Linked DNA regions of Homo sapiens: regions 1, 2 and 4 are each linked to region 3. The links come from fine-mapping of genetic effects on gene expression. A gene starts in region 3. Each other region holds a variant in brackets. All regions are shown on one strand. Distances are from middle to middle. Region 1 overlaps HPS5 (HPS5 biogenesis of lysosomal organelles complex 2 subunit 2). Region 2 overlaps GTF2H1 (general transcription factor IIH subunit 1). Region 3 holds the start of HPS5 (HPS5 biogenesis of lysosomal organelles complex 2 subunit 2). Region 4 has its middle 3.0 kb from the start of SAA1.

Evidence for each region. PIP is the estimated chance that this variant, and not a neighbour inherited with it, causes the effect.
Region 1: its variant is the best candidate, but not a certain one, in a credible set for the expression of HPS5 in whole blood (GTEx, PIP 0.64).
Region 2: its variant is the best candidate, but not a certain one, in a credible set for the expression of HPS5 in CD4 T cells (BLUEPRINT, PIP 0.87).
Region 4: its variant is the best candidate, but not a certain one, in a credible set for the expression of HPS5 in whole blood (GTEx, PIP 0.80).

The regions. Positions count from the first base shown.
Region 1 is chr11:18,278,143-18,283,277 of GRCh38, forward strand. HPS5 (HPS5 biogenesis of lysosomal organelles complex 2 subunit 2) reads right to left here. Exons shown (of 23, transcript NM_181507.2): 22 at 3,808-4,078; 23 at 534-1,800. The coding sequence ends at 1,740. Among named protein-coding and RNA genes, the nearest start is that of SAA1, 14 kb to the left of the region's middle. RefSeq lists enhancers at 4,451-4,510, 4,551-4,610. The variant A/G (reference allele first, on the strand shown) is at 2,226.
Region 2 is chr11:18,361,994-18,367,117 of GRCh38, forward strand. GTF2H1 (general transcription factor IIH subunit 1) reads left to right here. Exons shown (of 15, transcript NM_005316.4): 15 at 3,790-5,052. The coding sequence ends at 3,876. Among named protein-coding and RNA genes, the nearest start is that of MIR3159, 23 kb to the right of the region's middle. The variant T/TA (reference allele first, on the strand shown) is at 3,077.
Region 3 is chr11:18,319,513-18,324,661 of GRCh38, forward strand. It overlaps HPS5 (HPS5 biogenesis of lysosomal organelles complex 2 subunit 2), which reads right to left and starts at 2,628. Exons shown (of 23, transcript NM_181507.2): 1 at 2,434-2,628. GTF2H1 (general transcription factor IIH subunit 1) reads left to right here and starts at 3,055. Exons shown (of 15, transcript NM_005316.4): 1 at 3,055-3,228. RefSeq lists enhancers at 2,126-3,075, 2,213-3,412, 2,303-2,602, 2,613-3,032.
Region 4 is chr11:18,260,738-18,265,886 of GRCh38, forward strand. It overlaps the pseudogene ST13P5. Among named protein-coding and RNA genes, the nearest start is that of SAA1, 3.0 kb to the right of the region's middle. The variant T/G (reference allele first, on the strand shown) is at 2,105.

The DNA of each region.
Region 1 (5,135 bases), 41 kb before region 3:
ACCCTTATCTCAGTATAGATGCACATTTCAACACAATCCAATATGGCCAAAAGGCAAATTATGCTAGTGGGAAGGTTTTCCATACTTCCCGGAATTCTAAGAATTCTCCTTTCCCTGACAATCTCTCTTTTTTTTTGGGACGGAGTCTCACTCTGTCGCCCAACCTGGAGTGCAGTGGCACGATCTTGGCTCACTGCAAGCTCCGGCTCCCGGGTTCACGCCATTCTCCTGCCTCAGCCTCCCGAGTAGCTGGGACTACAGGCGCCAGCCATCATGCCAGGCTAATTTTTTTGTATTTTTAGTAGAGACGGGGTTTCACCGTGTTAGCCAGGATGGTCTCGATCTCCTGACCTCGTGATCCACCCGCCTTGGCCTCCCAAAGTGCTGAGATTACAAGCGTGAGCCACCGCGCCCAGCCGACAATCTCTTTAACCCATATGGTTGCATCATATCTAGGAGTAATGTGTAAGTTTAACAGTGATTTGTGTCCATATTCTCTGGTTATGTTATAAATGCAAAAAAGAGTTGAATTGTTCAGTGCATCCAACACTTTACTTACTCCACACCTTTCTGCAAAATGCTCATAATAAACCTCCTGTCTACATTGTGTTCCAATGAAAACTTTAGTCATATTTTACATTTATTATTAATATAACATGCTATGTAAATGTACAGGAGCCTGACAAATGACAATCTACTTACATAATTTAAATAACACAAGTGCTTGCTGCAGTCTTTATTAGTACACAGCTTTGTTATGGCTTCTTAGAAATAATTTTAAAAAGTGCATGATTCTTGTGGGCTACTCTGTTTAGGAAAGATTACAGATAACACATTTCTAAGAATGAATTAGTCAGCTGTATATGGGTTCAGATTAGAAAATATTAAATAAATACAGGGAAAAATATTTTTAATTAGCTTAATTTATATATGAAGATATTTTATTTAATTTGTTTTTGAGACAGGGTCTTTCTCTGTCACCCAGACTGGTGTGCAATGGCACAAACACATCTCATTGCGGCCTGGACCTCCTGGCCTCAGGTACTATGCCTAGCTAATTTTTTTTATTTTTTGTAGAGATGCATTCTCACTATGTTGCCCAGGCTGGTCTTGAACTCCTGGCCTCAAGTGATCCTCCCGTCTTTACCTTCCAAAGGGTTGGGATTACAGGCCTGAGCCACTGCACCCAGTCCCATTTTACTTAAATATCAAATTCAAATCTTCAGTGTTCTACTTATTTTGGGTGTTAATTCCATTATACACCGTCTTATTTCAGTAATTTCCATATTGTGCCAGACAAGATATAAAAATAATTCAACTCCAGTCAATAATACCATCTGTCTTCATGTGACCAGGATGAAAAGCTTCTGCTCCCAACATGGAAGCCACAGTAAGAAAAGAATCTGTCTAATCCACTAGCAACAAGCAGTTAATACTGTAGTTCGGAATAATACTAGGACATTAACATTCTAATTCCAGCAAACAAGGACTGACTCTTTTCAAAATTCAACTTTGGTTAAGAAATGCTGAGTACAACTTTGGTTAAGAAACACTGAGGTCATGGATAAAGAGTCACAGATGCCGATGCCAAGGGTACAGACACTGACAAAAGTAGCCCCAATAAGATGGCAGGATTTGGGGGTGGTGTCTTTCCTTCAATAACAAATGCGTTCAGAAGGTTCAGGAGCATGATTTAGTTTTTCTCAAAATGTCATGACATCCTGCTGAATCTTCTCCCACTAGGCCTGCTGGGACCAGAGAAACCGATCGCATTTTTCAAGCATGCTTTGTATCAAGGCCCTGAAATCCCAAAGAAAAGAAACAAGCAAATTTAGTTGTCATTGTTCATTCTTCACAGAAAACTTAAAAACTACAGAGTTTCAGAGGATTCAAAAAGTTGACTGATTCTGTGCATTAAAAGACACAATGCACAGAGTGAAAAGGCAACCTACAGAATGGAAGAAAATATTTGCAAATCATGTATCTGATAAGAGGTTAATATCCAGAATATCAGAGAACTCTTACAGCAACAACAACGAAAACACCCAACCTGATTCAACATGGGCAAAGGACTTGAATAGCTATTTCTCCAAAGACAATTATATAAATGGTCAATAAGCATATGAAAAAATGCTCAACATCTCTAATCATTAGAAAAATGCAAATCAAAACCACAATGAGATATATAGTACCTGACACCCACTGGGATAGCTACTGTTTAACAA[A/G]AAACAACAACAGAAAATGACAAGTGTGGGGCTAGCACATGGAGAAATTGGAACTCTTGTGCACTGCTGGCAGGAAAGTAAAATGGTGCAGTCTCTACAGAACAGTATGGTGGTTCCTCAAAAAATTAAAAATAGAATTACCATATGATTCCAGAATTCCACTTTCAGGTATATACCCGAAAGAACTGAAAGCAGTGTCTGGAAGACATATTTGTATACTCATATTCATAGCAGCGTTATTCACAATAGCCAGAAAGTGGAAGCAATTCAAGTGTCTGTCAACAGATGAATGGATAAACAAAAGGTGGCATATATATACAACGGAATATTATTCAGCCTTAAGTAGAAAGGAAATCCTGACACATGCTACAACATGGATAAACCTTTAGGATGCTATGCTCAGTGAAAACAGGCTGGTCACAAAACGACAAATGTATTAATTCCACTGAGATGAGGTATGTAGAATAGTAAAATTAATAAAAACAGAAAGTAGAACTGTGGTTGCCAGGGGCTAGGTAGAGGAAGTAAGTTGCTGTTTAATGGGTGTGGAGTTTCAGTTTTGCAAAATGAAAAAGTTCTAGAGACTGGATGCAAAACAATATGAATAACTTAATACCACTGAGCTGAATATTTTTAAATTGTTAAGATGATAAATTTTATGTGTATTATACCACAAAAAAAAATTACTGAGACATTAGGTATCTGGTACCAGTAATTTTTTTTTTTTTTTTCAGAGTTTTGCTCTTGTTGCCCAGGGTGGAGTGCAATGGCGTGATCTTGGCTCACTGCAATCTCTGCCTGCTGAGTTCAAGCGATTCTCCTGCCTCAGCTTCCCGAGTAGCTGGGAATTACAAGTGTCTGCCACCATGTCCAGTTAATTTTTTTGCATTTTTTTTTTTTTTTTTTAGTAGAGACAGGGTTTCACCATATTGGTTAGGCTGGTCTCGAACTCCTGACCTCAGGTTATCCACCTGCCTCAGCCTCCCCAAGTACTGGGATTACAGGCATAAGCCACCGTACCCAGCCAGGTACCAGTAATTTTTTTGTTTTTGAGATGGAGTCTCGCTCTGTCACCAGGCTAGAGTACAGTGTCATGTTCTTGGCTCACTGCAACCTCCACCTTCCGAGTTCAAGCGATTCTCCTGCCTCAGCCTCCCAAGTAGCTGGGACTACAGGCACGTGCCACCACACCCAGCTAATTTTTGTACTTTTTTTTTTTAGTAGAGATGGGGTTTCACCATGTTGCCAGGATGGTCTCAATCTCTTGACCTCATGATCCGCCCACCTCGGCCTCACAAAGTGCAAGGATTACAGGCGTGAACCACCACGACCAGCCTGGTACCAGTAATATTTTTAAAGAATCAAGGACACATCAGATTATTCAGGTTAATCTGAACAGCATCTTGGTCATGGCTGTGAATGAAATATTACTTTAGCCTCTTCCCTTAATTACCACATCAGTCTCAGTCTCCTCATGTTAGTGATGGGTCGGGACTAAATGATCTCCACATCTACATCTGAAAGTCTGTGGCCTTCTACCTTCTCCAAGCACTATGCAGAGGGTAGGACAAACTGATATTACCTCTGCCTTTTCTCAGCAATCCTCAGGATATCGCAGGTTCTGGTAAACTTCTCTGACAACTCAAGGGCCAGACCACATTCCTGTAGCAGTGACCAAGCCCGATCTGGGCCCATGGCCTTAGCTAACAGAAGTGCCACATTCTCCACATTGATGGGGGAAGGCCCATCACTGAGGCTCCCATTTAGTGACTCCTGGGGGGCTGGCCTCGTGCTCTTGCTCTGTATGAGATGAAGGAGAAGCTTCCATTCCTCCACGGTCTCTGGGATCCAACCTAAACACACACAGGGAAGTGTCAGTTTGACCACTCTTAGCACACTGACTGGATACAGGAGATGGTCAAAACTGTGAAAATGTTTAATGCCAAAACGTAAAAATATTCAAGAACACAATCTCATCACCCTAACACAAGTTGTTTTCTGAAAATTTGTTGTATAAATTGTTCATGAGAAAGAGAAGCCACAAAATTAACTTTAATTTTTTTCTTTTTTTTTTTTAAAGAGAGACAGGGTCTCACTACCATGTTGCCCAGGCTGGTCTTAAACTCCTGAGCTCAAGCAAGCCTCCCACCGCAGCCTCCCAAAGTGCTGGGATTACAGGCATGAGCTACCACACCTGGGCAGCTTCAGAATTCTTTCAACCACTCAGTAATTACCCAGGGCATATCCTATGCTAAGCACTGGATATGTAATGATGAACAGAAGAGACACAATCCCTGTACTCTTGTGGAGCCTACAGTCTAGTATAGGAGACAAAACTTAAACACGTAAGTATATACTTATAAAGTATGCTAAGCACTATGAAAAAAAAGAACAAGGAAGCATCAGAGAGAATGGCTGATTCTGCCTGGAAGATCTGAGAAGGGCTCTATGAGGAAGTGACATTGAAGCAGAAAGCTAAAAGATGAGACAAGCTTAGAGGACATATGCATGGGGCCCACATAATGTGAAAACTTGGAGTAGGAGCCATCAGAAATAAGGGGCCTGCATTTCTGATAAAGGAAACATGGAAGACAATGTGACACAGGAAAGAACTTGACGAATTCAAGGAATTTTTCTTTTCCTTTTTGTTTTGAGACCAAGTCTTGCTCTGTTGCCCAAGCTGGAGTGCAGTGGTGCGATCTCAGCTCACTGCAACCTCCACCTCCCAGGTTCAAGCAATTCTCCTGCCTCAGCCTCTCAAGTAGCTGGGATTACAAGCATAAGCCACCATGCCCAGTTAATTTTTGTATTTTTAGTAGAGATGGGGTTTCACCATGTTGGCCAGGCTGGTCTCAAACTCCCGACCTCAGGTGATCTGCCCACCTCGGCCTCTGAAAGTGCTGGAATTAC
Region 2 (5,124 bases), 42 kb after region 3:
GAATAGTACAGTCACGTGTTGCTTAACCACAGGGATGTGTTCTAAACAATTCATTGACAGACAGTTTTGTTGTATGAACCTCACAGAGTGTACTTAAAACCTAGCTATATAGCCTACTATACTTCTAGGCTATATGGTGTAGCCTGTTGCTCCTAGGCTACAAACCTGTACAGCATAGTACTGTACTAAATACTGTAAACAGTTTTAACACAATGGTATGTGTGTATCTAAACATAGAAAAGTTGCAGTAAAAATTCAGTATAAAAGATAAAAAGTGGTCCACCTGTAAAGGGCATTTACCATAAATAGAGCCTGCAGGACTGCAGGACTAGAAGTTGCTCTGGGTGACTCAGTGAGTGAATGTGAAGGCCTAGGACATTACTGTACACTACTGCAGAGTTTACTAACACTGTACACTTAGACTACATTAAATTTACAATATAGCTTTTTTTCTTCAATAATAAATTAGCCTTAGCTTACTATAACATTTTTACCTTATAAACTTTTAAATATTTTTAAAGTTTTTCATTCTTTGGAATAACACTTAACCTAAAACACCCATTGTATAGCTGTACAAAAGTATTTTCTTTGTATTCTTATTCTATAAGCCTTTCTCTCTCTCTTTCTCTCTCTCTCTCCCTCTCTCCGTATAGATATATATATTTTTTCTTTTTCTTTTTTTTTTTTTTTTTTTTGAGATGGAGTCTAGTTCTGTCGCCCAGGCTGGAGTGCAATGGCATGATCACAGCTCATTGCAACCTCTGCCTCCTGGGTTCAAGCGATTCTCCCGCCTCAGCCTCCCGAGTAGCTGGGATTACAGGCACCCACCACCACGCCCAGCTAATTTTTGTATTTTTAGTAGAGACCGGGTTTCACTGTGTCGGCCAGGTTGGTCTCGAACTCCTGACCTCGTGATCCACCCACCTCGGCCTCACAAAGTGCTGGGATTACAGGCGTGAGCCACCACGCCTGGTGCCTTTTTTCTATTTTTAATTTTTTTTTTCTTTTTAAACTTTTGTTAAAAACTAAGACACAAACACACATTAGCCTAGGCCTACACAGAGTCAGGATCATCACTATCACTGTCTTCCACCTCCACATCTTGTCCCACTGAAAAGTCTTCAGGGGCAGTAATGCACATGGAGCTGTCATCTCCTGTGAAACAATACCTTCTTCTGGAATACCTCCTGAAGGACCTGCGTACGGCTATTTTACAGTTAACTTTTTTATATATATAAGTAGGAGTACACCGTAAATAATGATTTTAAAATACAGTAAATAGATAAACCAGTAACATATTCATTATCATTATCAAGTATTAGGTCCTATACATAATTGTACATGCTATACTTTTATACAGCTGGCTACTTAATAGGTTCGTTTACACCAGCATCCCTACAAACGAGTGAATAATGTGCTGCTGTATGATGTTACGACATCACTAGATGATGGGAATTTCTCAGCTCTATTATAATCTGATGGGACCGCCATCATATATGCACATTATGTGGCACATGACTCTAGTTACAAATTTAAGATTCAGTATTCAATAAGTAGGATAAATAAAAGGGGAGTTTTACAATTGAAAGCTGAAAAATCATCAGCAAGATTTTTCATATTTATTTCCTAAATATTCTAAGTGGGTTTTCTTAAAATACAAAACAGCATTACTTATAATCAGATAGAAGCTTGGAGTGTCTTCTCACAGCAGGGCAAGGATGGCAGATAGGTTTCAGGTCATGTGCCTTCTCAATTGATTATAACTGCTTGGAGTGCTGTGTTGGAAAGGATGCTGAGGGCCAGGCGCGGTGGCTTACACCTGTAATCCCAGTACTTTGGGAGGCTGAGGCGGGTGGATCACCTGAGGTCAAGAGTTCGAGACCAGCCTGGCCAACACAGTGAAACCCCATCTCTACTAAAAATACAAAAAATTAGCCGGGCGTTGTGGCAAGTGCCCCTAATCCCAGCTACTCGGGAAGTTGAGACAGGAGAATTGCTTGAACCTGGGAGGCGGAGATTGCAGTGAGCTGAGATCGTGCCATTGCATCTAGCCTAGGCAACAAGAGTGAAACTCCATCTCAAAAAAAAAAGAAAAGGATGCTGAGGCCATGCATAGCCTTGCAGAAGGATATGGTGTTCATGTCTTCCAATTGATAATATAGATACTGCTGCCCATCAAACAGAATAAGTAATTTTTATAGTTTCCAGACAGAGCTAAATATTACTATCCCCCATAATGATAAACAGGTATGGCAGTAAGGGTAATTTTTTTAACTCTGTACCCCTCAGACCTAAACATTGACATGCCAAAGGAATTTAGGACTTCCTGATCTCCATCTCCATCCTCCCAGACTTGGCAAAACTTTACTTCTAAACACATAAACACTGTCCACCTCCAAGGAAACATATTCCAGAGACTTCTACCTCAAAAGTCAGTATAAGCCAGATGCGGTGGTATGCACATGTAGTCCCAGCTACTCAAGAGACTGAGGCAGGAGGATCACTTGAAATCAGGAGTTTGAGACTATAGTAAACTAAAATTGCACCTGTGAATAGCCACTGCACTCCAGCCTGGGCAACGTAGTGAGACCATGTCTCAAAAAAATAAAAAAGATTCCATATGATCCTGTTGACTTCTAGCTATGTCCATGATGAGGGCAAAATTCTTAATCTACTCAAAGATCTATAGTCCTGACCCAAGACATGACATAGCACATTGTGTGAAGCATTGAAACCATTTAGGTTTTCTGTAATCTGCTGAGTTGTATTGAACTCCTGAAATGCTGGAGTTGGAAAAACCCTAAAAATAGCAAACTGTTTCACAAAATTATGCAGAATTAACTGCAGGAGCTTTTGAAAATCAAAGATTCTTGGGTCTCATCCCAGGCCTGTTGAATCAGAATCTTCAGGAGAATAAGGCATTTTTCCAGTGTTCTGCCAAGATGTATATACGGGGCTGGGCACAGCAGCTCACGCCTGTAATCCCAGCACTTTGAGAGGCTGAGGCAGGAAGATTGCTTGAGCCCAGGAGTTCGAGACCAGCCTGGGCAGCATAGCAAGAGTCCATCTCCACTAT[T/TA]TAAAAAAGAAAAAAAAAAAAAACCTGGCCGGGCATGGTGGCTCAGGCCTGTAATCCCAGCACTTTGGGAGGCTGAGGTGGGTGAATCACTTGAGGCCAGGAGTTCAAGACCAGCCTGGCCAACATGGTGAAATCCCATCTCTACTAAAAATACAAAAATTAGCCAGGTGTGGTGGCTCATGGTTGTAATCCTAGCTACTCGGGAGTCTGAGACATGAGAACTGCTTGGACCTGTGAGGTGGAGGCTGCAGTGAGCCAAAATCACACCATAGCACTCCAGCCTGGGTGACAGAGCAAGACTCTGTCTCAAAAAATAAAATAAAATAAAATAAAGTTTATACTACCATCCTGGCCTTAGTTGGCTGACCAGTATTCAAATCTAGAAAATCACAGATATAGTTCAGACCCCTCGTTTGACAGAAGGAATTGAGGCCTGGAGCACAATTGTGACTTTCATATTGTCCTATTATTGGTTAATGACAGGACAGCCATTACAACCGCAGCCTTTTCACTGCCCCCTACTTTCTGTCTTTCCTTTCCACACAAAATGTGTCTGACAGCACCTTCTCAGAGGGCTTGCACATTACCTCATTGACTGGGGAAATACAGAGGAGCTCCGAAACTACACTCTGAAGTGTGTGCCAGATTTGGGTTGGAAGGATTAACTTCCCCTGCTTTTGCCCAGTTGTTAAGTGTCTTGCTGTGTTTTTCAGTTGGTAAGTCACATAGAAGAGATGCTCCAGACAGCCTACAACAAGCTCCACACATGGCAGTCACGGCGTCTGATGAAGAAAACGTGAGGTGGCCATGATGCTTACAGGTTTTGTGAGATTGAGAGAACTATGACCTGCAGCAACTCTGGAAACCTGGCCTGACAGACAAGCAGATGACCTCACAGGAGTGATAAGAAACATCTGCTCCACGCCAACTCCCAGAGCTGATGCTATTGTACTTGCACATTGGAGACTGAAAGGAAAGAAGGGACTAAATGCTGGGGAGGTAAATTAAGACAGAACCAAATGAGCTAAGTTGCAAATATATATATATACACACACACACATATATGTACATGTGTATGTACATATATATTTTAAAAGACTGTTTACTGCAGTTGCTCAGGAACTGCTTTTGATTCACATTAAGCTGCTTTCAGAAATTAAAAAAACACTTTTTAAAGGGTGCATTGATAAAATCTGAGGTTTTTTGGTTGTCGTTTTTTTCTGTGTACATTTTTTTCCTAAGTTTATGGCACAGGGTAGACCTTAAGTATTCCTCCTCCATCCTTCATTCTTCACCCTCCATTGGATCCTCAAGTTTTAATGAATTCCAATTATACCTTACATCAGCAAGTTAAAAAAAGTACTTTAAAATAAAGCAAAGGGAGACTGTTGCTCAACCATCAGGAAACAGTTGTCAGAAGACATCATTGGTTCTGTGTTTCCTACGGAAATAAGAAACGATAAATATTGCACTGAATGTTTGTGGTTTGGAGTCCCTGAATAATAAAGAGGGAATATATTTGCAGAAAGTCGCATAGGGTTTTTTAATGCAGAATTTTGTCAGAAGACAATGGCGCTGCATGTTTTTCTTTGAGTGCAAATGTACATTGCTAAGATTTTTTTAAGATGGCATGTGCTTTGAAAAGAAGATATTGCATTTTTAAGAGTTTAAAAATCTTATGAGTGAGAAATATTAAAAAAATCTTATTTTCACCTCTTTAGAAGAAATAAAAGATGTTTCTCCTATCTCCTTTTCTCTAGTATTTGACTGTTACTGTCCTTGGCGAATCGATAATCATTGCATAGTGACTGAAAAGCCTAAGTGCAAAAAAAAAAAAAAAAGATGTTCTTGTTTCTGAACTTCGTGCCATATTTTGTTCCTGATGGGATCAACTTAATGTTTAAGACTTTAGATGTCTTGTATTAAAAATTACACAAAAAAAGTAAAACTTTTTATACTTACCCTTTTAACTCTAACACATCTCTGGTTTCTCATTATGTGTGAATTTCCTTGGGTGGGCTGCCTGAGAACTGTTCATTTTATTTTAG
Region 3 (5,149 bases):
ATTTAGTCTTTGGTTGAAACAGGATACAAGCAACGGAATAATGAAAGATAAAGCTGGAATCTTAATTTGGGCCCAAGTTACAAAACACTTTGAATTTCAAACCAAAGAACCTGAACTTAACTTGGCAGGCAACAGAAAGGAATTGAAGAATTGTGTGTTGGGAGGTCACACAATTTCTGTAAAGTGCTGTGGGTGGTTAGATGCTAGAAAACAAAGACTTGAGAAAACGGGTGGGTGATATGAAAATGAGGATAAAACATTTCAATTACTCAAGAAGTCTGGTGGAAAAGGAGAAAACCTCTCTTGACGTTATTATTGGGGAGACTCTTCAACAGATTTGTAGGTAGTAGCTAAAAGTAGAGTCTAGAACGAAAGGGACTGAAGATTCAAGAAAAAGATAAAACCATGGTACAGGATCCAAGAGATGGAAAGGAATGATAATATCATAGTGTCTCTTCTACTTGTGATCTTGAAACAAAGAAACTCTGAGTAGGTCATTTTGCCTTAATCTCGGTAAAAAGAGAATGTCCTGGAAGTTATAATATAATGCGGGGGTGTGCAGGGGGACACACCTAGTAAGTTCTACTGAAAAGAAAAAAAGAATTTAACAGAAATGAGAATGGAAAATAAAAACAGCATAAGCAATGCCAATTCTCAGAGAAGCTGCTGAATGACAGTGTTAAACCAACTTCAACTTTATACTTTATGTTTACTCTCCCTGAAATGACTGCTTCCCTTCCAGATTTTCTTATCCAAACATACCCAGCTTTCAAGATCGCACATGAGCCCTACTTCCTAGAATTCTCAAGATGGAAAAAGATTCATAGGTAATTCAGTGAACATGTCCACCTAATTCAGAAATTAGTTTTGCCCTAGATCCCTGAACATTTTCAGCCATGGAAAGAAAGCACTCACTCTCATGAAGCTGCCAATTCCAGTCCTCCAAAGGGCTCACTATTATAAGGTTCTTTTTAATACTATGCTGAAGCCTGATCACTTAGAGCTCTACCATTATTCCTAATTGTATGTAGCTTCTACAGCTGAAGGGAACAAGCTGTCTCTTTCCAAAACAATCCTTCTGTATTTGAAAAGCATTATCAGGTCTTCTAAAAATTTAACATTCCCAGTTTCTTCATCACTCCTGACATGACATTTTCCAACCCTCTGTTCCAGTCAACCTTCTACAGAGGCACTGTAGTTTGCCTAAAAATGAGGTGCCTAGAACTGAGCATAATACTCCTTAAGTAGTTAGATGAGCCCAGAATAGAGTAGAAACACTAACTTCCTGGATCTAGACACTAAGTTTCTATATTACAACCTAAAAACAGTATTAGTTGTGTTTAAGTGGCCATGTTACACATTGATTCAACAGAGCAAGTGGTCAACTAAAACCCAAAGAAATTGTTTACATAAATAAAATCTTCTTAGCCAGTAGCTACATACAGTAGAACTGAGCTCAAATTGAAAGCTGCTATTAATCAAATGCAACAATGGATATAAAAAGTACCTAGAAATGTACAAACAGTATAAAGAGGAACAGCAGAATGCTGATAATTGTTCAAGTTGCGTTAAGTGTACATGAGGGTTCAATTTATTATCCTACTTTTGTCTGCGTTTGAAATTTTCCACAATAAAATTTAAAAAATATATACATAATATTGTACAAGCCTTCAACAGCTCTATTTCTTGAAAATCTGTTATCTCCTCCCTGCTTCTTTTTCCAGCCTTATTTCCCATCTTAACCTCTCTATTCTCCAACTACATTGGACTCGACTCTTTTTTTCTTTTTCATTCCATAAACTTGCTGTGCCTCCATGGTTTAATATATGATGTTTATGGAATCTTCCCCCATTTACCAAAACCCTACCTTTCTGCAAAGCTGAGTTTAAATGTTACTTCTGTGAAGGCACTCTACCAAAAACTAAGAACATAGAAGTTGGCGACAAATGCTTAACCAAAGTAAATGAAACAACTTTTGGGAGACTGGCTTGCCCAAGGATCACAGAGTTCATAAATGGTAGAGCTGAGATTAGAATACGCGTCTCCTGAATCCAAATCTCATCTTTCCATTATCGTAAAATAGTTCAGTGTTTGTTGCTCACACATCAAATGCAAACATGTTTCTCTTTTGCCCCAGTAGGTGCGTGGAGGAAGAGGAGAAAGAAGTAAGAAAGATAGCAAAAATTGAAGAAATGAGAAGGGGAAGTTGCAGACTGCCTCATTTTCACAATGGGATCTTTCTATCCAAGAAGAAATGATCAGAAAACAACTCTCTGCCTCAGACAAATGGCGACTGACTCATTTATACATTCATTCATTCAACATTCTGAGTGCCTACTATGTTCCAGGACCTGAACACACCGCTAGAGACACAGGGATGAACAAAACACAATCCCTACCCACAAAAAGCTCCTTGCCTAGTGGAACTACTACCTTTTTAACAGCAGTAACTTTAATATCTTGAGATTTCTTGAGAGGAGACCCAGTAACCAATTTTCAAAGCCAGGCTCACAGACCAGCAGCCCGGAGGTCCCAGCCCAGCTCCACCACATCCAGGGCAGTACCTCGCAGCTCTCAGTAGATCGGATCTTGTCTCCCGGCTTAGCGCCGGGGAACTCACCGCGCACTAAGAGCGGAACGTGAACTTCAGTCTCCCCTCGCGTTCCTCCCCTTCCTTGCTGACGTCATCCAGGAGAGCCGCAGACTGGAAACAACGCTACTAACGGCACTTCCTCATCACGTGACGAGTCACGCCCCTCCTTCCGCGTGGTCCCTCCCCCTCAGGCCGCGGTCGCGATTACGCTCTCTACGGCCTGCGACCGCAGGGCCGTTGCGGGCTGGAGACACGGCGCCGACTGGAACCGGAGGAGCTCTAGGCCAAATGGTTGGGCCAGCCAGGATCCCAGGACCCTTCGCCGCTCGAGACCGGAGAGAGGAAACGAAACAGGCGGGAACCCGTGGGGGAGGGAGGGAACTAGCGGAAGGTGTCATGGCGGCCGCGCTCTTGAGTCACGTGCCCAGGGCCCGCCTTGCTACTTCCGGTCACGTGCCCTCAGACTCCTCGCAGCCAGCGATGGAGGCGAGACCCCCTAGTAACAGAGGCGGTGGCTACTGCTGCGGCCACTGGGTTTCGGCCTCTTCCCAGCAGCGGCTCTAAGAAGCGCAGCGGAACTCGACCGGATCCAACCCAGTTAGTTACTTCCTGTCTAGAGTTGTAGCTTCCACCTGGTAAGTTTAGACCGAAGAATGCAGGCGGGCGGGTGGGTGGGCGGGTGAGGAGCTGACAGGCCTGGGGGCCGCTGGACGGCGTGGATTCTACCCCTGTTCCCAGCGTCGCTGTCGCCGTCCTCCCAACGCCCAAGCCTGGCGTCTTGTTTGCCCTTATCCCGAGGCGAGGAAGAGGCGACCCCTAATCTACTTGTCTAAAGGAAACCTGCTCTTAAATTGAGAGCAGGTTTACCCAAAGCCAGGATCAGATTTGGCTTATGAGAATGAAGTGGAGGCCTCTCCCAGACAGAGAAGCCCTTCCCGTCAGGAAATGTGCTGTTGAGTCTGGGATTCTGTAAGAGAAAAGCTGTCACCTTGTTGTCTGCACACCTTTTGCTTCCACCTGTCAATCTTACCTCTCTTAAAAACCTTAACACGTGCCAGTCCACACACTCCTAGTTTTGGTCATTTGATTGTCGTGTAATGATGAAAAATAGACCATGAGTACCTGGATATATGTAATTATTTTGTAAATCCCCCAGTGTTCTCAAAGGCCAAATTAAATAAGGAGGTGACTTTTCTTATTTTTTTTTAAGAGACAGAGTCTTGTTCTGTCGTCCTGGCTGGAATGCAGTGGCGTGATAATAGCTCACTGTAACCTCGAATTCCTGGGCTCAAGCGATTCTCCTGCCTAGACCTCCCAAAGCGCCAGAATTATGCTACAGTGCCTGGCCCCAAATGACTCCTAAACTCCAATTTTAGCATCAGTAAAATGGGGATGGGGAAAGAAGATATGAAAAATACACCCTTTGTCCATTTGAAGACCCAGTCTTAAAAACAAAAACAAAAAAAAAACTGAGTGGTTTGAATGAAATGTGCTTTGCAGTGAGTATTGACTCCATACAAACCAATATCCAGACTTGTGATTTTCAAACATTTTAAAGGAGTGGAACAATTTCTCCCCATGAATTTTTATCTGGAACCCAATATATAAAGCAGCATGCTCTGGTGGAACTAAATTTAAAAGGGCCAGGCCCCACCACCCCACTTAACTTCTATCCTAGAGGCCACTCCTTGGAACACAGTTTGAAAACCACTGAACTGGACTTAGGTAATTAAGCCAAAGTTGCCAACCTTAAGATTTTTTAAAAGACAAAACCAGAGCAGTTGAGATGGAGAGGTCACAACCGCAGGGAAGGTAACCTCTAGTAGCAGGCCTTGGACTTAGAGAAGGACTAAACTCTGGAGAGAACTTTGTACCTGTTAGCAGGCTTAAGTCCCTCATTCAGAAAGGAGAAAAAAGAGATGGTCTGCTATCCTCACTCAGCCGACATTTTTTTTTTTTTTTGAGACGGAGTTTTGCTCTTGTTGCCCAGGCTGGAGTGCAATGGCGCGATCTCTGCTCACTGCAACCTCCATCTACCGGGTTCAAGGGCTTCTCCTGCCTCAGCCTCCCCAGCGGCTGGGATCACAGGCGCACGCCACCATGCCTGGCTAATTTTTGTATTTTTGGTAGAGACGGGGTTTCACCATGTTGACCAGGCCATTCAGCCGACTTGTAGCAGTGCAACAGATTGGTAAGTTTGAGTCTCTCTTAGGTGATATAAAATACACATTGCAGTACAAATGTGAAAAAAAATCAAAGCAAATTCAGAGAGGGCTTTTGAAAAATACTAGGAAACTTGGTGCAGTGTGGGAGAAGAATCAGTTAAAAGTAGTGAAGCCAGCGACCAGCACCAGTCCTGGGTTGTGAATGCTTCCTGTGTGTACTGCCCTCAAGGCTTGTAACTTCTCCCTGCTGGTACCATGTGTCCTGCCCTCTGATAACCTGCTTCTCTGTGCTATTTTATTCCCTACCATCAGAATGTTGTCTGGCATACCTTGAGCTTTCCTAGCATTTTGGCCACCATTTATCTCTGCCTTATGCATACTGCTGATAGAG
Region 4 (5,149 bases), 59 kb before region 3:
CAAGTGATTTCCAAACAGGAAGATTTTCAAACACTGATTCCTGAAGATCACCCCCAACTCGCTGAACTGAGACCAAGACCTCCAAGATTATGGCTTAGGAATCTGCATTTTTTTTTTTTTTTTGAGACAAGAGTCTCGCTCTGTTGCCAGGCTAGAGTGCAATGGTGGAATCATAGCTCATTGTAACCTCAAACTCCTGGGCTCAAGTGATCTTCCTGCCTCAGCCTCCCAAGTAGTGAGGACAACAGGAGTGTGCCACCATGCCCAGCTAATTGTTAATTTTTTGTAGAAATGGAGTCTCACTATGTTGCTCGGGCTGGTCTCAAACTCCTGACCTTAACCCATCCTCCGCCTCCGCCCCCAAAAGTGTTGGGATTACAGGTGTGAGCCACCGTGCCCAGCCTAGAAATACCCACTAGAAGCTTCTGTGTAGACAATCTGCTTAGTGATGTTTGGAGACAAAGTACCTCTTTATTGTATTCATTGACAAAACTCTCCAGTCCTCTCCCATCTTCATGGAAAATTTTCACAGTTCATTTACGGCCCTCTTTCCAACACATTCACTGCCAATACTCTTATTGACAATAACTGTATTGTTGAACCTTCCAGTATCCTGCATTCCCGGATCAAGGCCCCCTCAAAGCCCTGATATGCAAATATCTGGGAAAAGAATGTTCCAGAGGAAAGGAACAGCTAATCCGAGGCCCCTAGGGTAAGATGTGCCTGGGGGTTTGGAGACCAGTGTGGCCAGAGCAAAATGAGCAGGAGGAGAGAATTGGATGATGAGGTACGAGAGGAAGGAGTTAGGACAGTTTGAGTAAAGTTTGAAAACCATTATAAGGGCTTTGACTTCAACTATGAGTGGAAGTGGAATCCTCCGGAGAGTTTTGAATGGAGAGTGATAGAAGTTGTCTTGTGTTGTAACAGTCTGGCTGCTATACTGAAAAGAGACTAGTTGGCGGCAAAGGGGGAAATGTGGAAGCCAGTTAAGAAGCCATCATAACCCAGAAGGTGATGCCTAATAACATCTCTCTGGGAGCAGCGGAGAGATGATAAGGGTTTGCCTTCTGAATATGTTTTTTGACAATTAATGTAAACATTTCAAGTAGGCTGAGATTTTATTGCATATTAACAATGTCCATGTTCACTCGCGGCAGCCGCCCCCTTCTGCGCGGTCATGCCGAGCCAGCACCTGGGCCTGGAACTGGGCCGCAGCCCCCAGCTTCACCCACCACCTCCCTACCATGGACCCCTGCAAAGTGAACGAGCTTCGGGCCTTTGTGAAAATGTGTAAGCAGGATCCGAGCGTTCTGCACACCGAGGAAATGCGCTTCCTGAGAGAGTGGGTGGAGAGCATGGGAGGTAAAGTACCACCTGCTACTCAGAAGGCTAAATCAGAAGAAAATACCAAGGAAGAAAAACCTGATAGTAAGAAGGTGGAGGAAGACTTAAAGGCAGACGAACCATCAACTGAGGAAAGTGATCTAGAAATTGATAAAGAAGGTGTGATTGAACCAGACACTGATGCTCCTCAAGAAATGGGAGATGAAAATGTGGAGATAACGGAGGAGATGATGGATCAGGCAAATGATAAAAAAGTGGCTGCTATTGAAGTCCTAAATGATGGTGAACTCCAGAAAGCCATTGACTTATTCACAGATGCCATCAAGCTGAATCCTCGCTTGGCCATTTTGTATGCAAAGAGGGCCAGTGTCTTCGTCAAATTACAGAAGCCAAATGCTGCCATCCAAGACTGTGACAGAGCCATTGAAATAAATCCTGATTCAGCTCAGCCTTACAAGTGGCGGGGGAAAGCACACAGACTTCTAGGCCACTGGGAAGAAGCAGCCCATGATCTTGCCTTTGCCTGTAAATTGGATTATGATGAAGATGCTAGTGCAATGCTGAAAGAAGTTCAACCTAGGGCACAGAAAATTGCAGAACATTGGAGAAAGTATGAGCGAAAACATGAAGAGCGAGAGATCAAAGAAAGAATAGAACGAGTTAAGAAGGCTCAAGAAGAGCAGGAGAGAGCCCAGAGGGAGGAAGAAGCCAGACGACAGTCAGGAGCTCACTATGGCCCTTTTCCAGGTGGCTTTCCTGG[T/G]GGAATGCCTGGTAATTTTCCCGGAGGAATGCCTGGAATGGGAGGGGACATGCCTGGAATGGCCGGAATGCCTGGACTCAATGAAATTCTTAGTGATCCAGAGGCTCTTGCAGCCATGCAGGATCCAGAAGTTATGGTGGCCTTCCAGGATGTGGCTCAGAACCCAGCAAATATGTCAAAATACCAGAGCAACCCAAAGGTTATGAATCTCATCAGTAAATTGTCAGCCAAATTTGGAGGTCAAGCATAATGCCCTTCTGATAAATAAAGCCCTGCTGAAGGAAAAGCAACCTAGATCACCTTATGGATGTCGCAATAATACAAACCAACGTACCTCTGACCTTCTCATCAAGAGAGCTGGGGTGCTTTGAAGATAATCCCTACCCCTCTCCCCCAAATGCAGCTGAAGCATTTTACAGTGGTTTGCCATTAGGGTATTCATTCAGATAATGTTTTCCTACTAGGAATTACAAACTTTAAACACTTTTTAAATCTTCAAATATTTAAAACAAATTTAAAGGGTCTGTTAATTCTTATATTTTTCTTTACTAATCATTGTGGATTTTTCCTTAAATTATTGGGCAGGGAATATACTTATTTATGGAAGATTACTGCTCTAATTTGAGTGAAATAAAAGTTATTAGTGCGAGGCAAACATAAAAAAAAAAAGTCCATGTTCATCTCTAAATGACATCATTGTTCCAAAGCTTTTCCATTCTTCTTAACCTTCCACCTGTCAATCTATAGGAGATGACTTCTCCTACTTCACTCATGCATTGACTCCTTCAATCAATAAAAGTGACTAAGAACCTGCTACAGGTGAGGTGCTGTGTTTGGTGTTAAAGTGACAACAGTTATCTGTCAATAAGCCTGACAAGGTTCCTATCCCTGTGTTTTGTGCACTCTGGGTCAAACTCAGAAATGCAAACAGGTGGAGAGCGATGAGTTCTATGACTGGTAAAGAAAAGGGCCTGCTGGTTTCCCTCAGGATCTCTGTCCTTCATCTCAAAATGCATCTTCCTTGTTATCGTTCCTCTCCTTCCTGTCTCAGAGGAAGACCTGCTCCTGCTACACTCTGGGCAACCTTGTCCCCGTGGCCCTGTGGCCCCTTGGTTGTTGAAGTCTATGTTATGCCCTATCTTTTACCCTCAGTCACTCTCTCTGTTAACATTCTCCCTGTGCCCTGTAACCCTCCCTCATCTTTAAATAAATCCTCCTCCTTTGACCTTCGCATGTATTCAGTCATGCAACTCAACAAGCATTTATTGCACAGTGATATTCAATTTGCCACTTGCTAAAAGTCTGAACCTTGGCAGCTGAATGTGATCAGAAAAAAAGCACGACTGCTATGACTAGTCTCACTTTAAATTCATGGTCGTTGACCAAGAGCTACCATACAATCCACTACCTTTCTCAAGTTCAGTCACATTCTTCCTTTCCTAGATGTCTGCTTTCTACTTCTCTTCTCTTCTGAAACTTCCCACAACTCCTCGTTCATTCTCTTCTCAGTTGACAACTTTGCTTCCTATTTCACTGAAAAATAGAAGCAATCAGATATGAACTTCTGGCTGGGCATGGTAGCTCATGCCTATAATCTCAGCACTTTGGGAGGCCAAGGCAGGAGGACTGCAGGTTAGGAATTTGAGACCAGCCTGGGCAACATGGTGAAACTCCCACTGTACTAAAAATTTTAAAAATTACTCAAACATATTGGCAAACAACTGCAGTCCCAGCTACTTGGGAGGTTGAGATGCAAGGATCACTTAAACCTGGGAGGCTGAGGCTGCAGTGAGCCATGATTGCACCACTGCACTCCAGCTCAGGCAACAGAGCAAGACCCTGTCTTGAGAGGAGAGGAGAAGAGAGGAGGGGAGGGGAGGGCAGGGGAGGGGAGGGGAGGGGAAGGGAGAGGGGAGGGGAGAGGGGAGGAGAGAGGGGAGGGGAGGGGAGGGGAGGGGAGGGGAGGAGAGGAGGATCAGGTGAGGAGTATGCCAAGGAGTGTTTTTAAGACTTACTGTTTTCTCTTTCCCAACAAGATTGTCATTTCCTTTAAAAAGTAGTTATCCTGAGGCCTATATTCATAGCATTCTGAAAGAAAGAAAAGAAAAGAGGAAAGAAAGAGAGAGGAAGGAAGGAAGGAGAAAGAGAGAGGAAGGAAGGAGAAAGAGAGAGGAAGGAAGGGAGGAAGAGAAGAAGGGAGGAAGAAAAGAAGGAAGGAAGGAGGGAGGGAGGGAAGGGAGGGAGGGAAAGAGGAAGAAAGGAGGGAAAGAAGGAAGGAAGAGAGAGAGGAAGGAAGGAGGAAGAGAGAAGAAGGAAGGAGGAAGACAGAGAGGGAGTAAGGAAGGAAGGAAGGAGAAAGAGAGAGGAAGGAAGAAATGAAGGAAGGAAGGAAAGAAAGAAAAAATAAAAGAGTGAAAACGGACTGGAGAAGAAGAAACCACAGTTGCTGCTATATCCACCAGCCTCTCTGCATGTCCTGGCCTCAGCCCTGCTGGGCTCTGGTACTGACCACTTCCTTCCTTCCTAATTTCCTAATTGACTAGGCCAGCTGAGCAGGGCTTTTCTGTGCTGAGGAGGTAAATCTCTGGATATCTAGACTGAGGGGTGGAAGGAGCCTTCCAGGGCACACATGAGACATGGCAGGGGTAGGCTGCTAGTTTTATTTTGTTTTCTTTTAGACACAGGGTCTTGCTCTGTTAACCAGGCTGGAGTGCAGTGGCGTGATTATAGCTCACTGCAGCCTTGACCTCCTGGGTCTCCCACAATCCTTCCGCTTCAGCCTCTTGAGTAGCTGGGACTGCAGGTGCACACTACCACACCCGGTCCATTTATTTTTATATTTCGTAGAGACAAGATCTTACAGTTTTGCACAGAGTGATCTTAAACTCTTGACCCCAAGTGATCCTCCTGCCTTGGCCTCCAAAAGCATTGGGATTATAGGAGTGAGCCACTGTGCTGGACCTAGTCTGTCAGCTTTGAAGCTTTAGATATGAACTCAGAGGGACTTCATTTCAGAGGCATCTGCCATGTGGCCCAGCAGAGCCC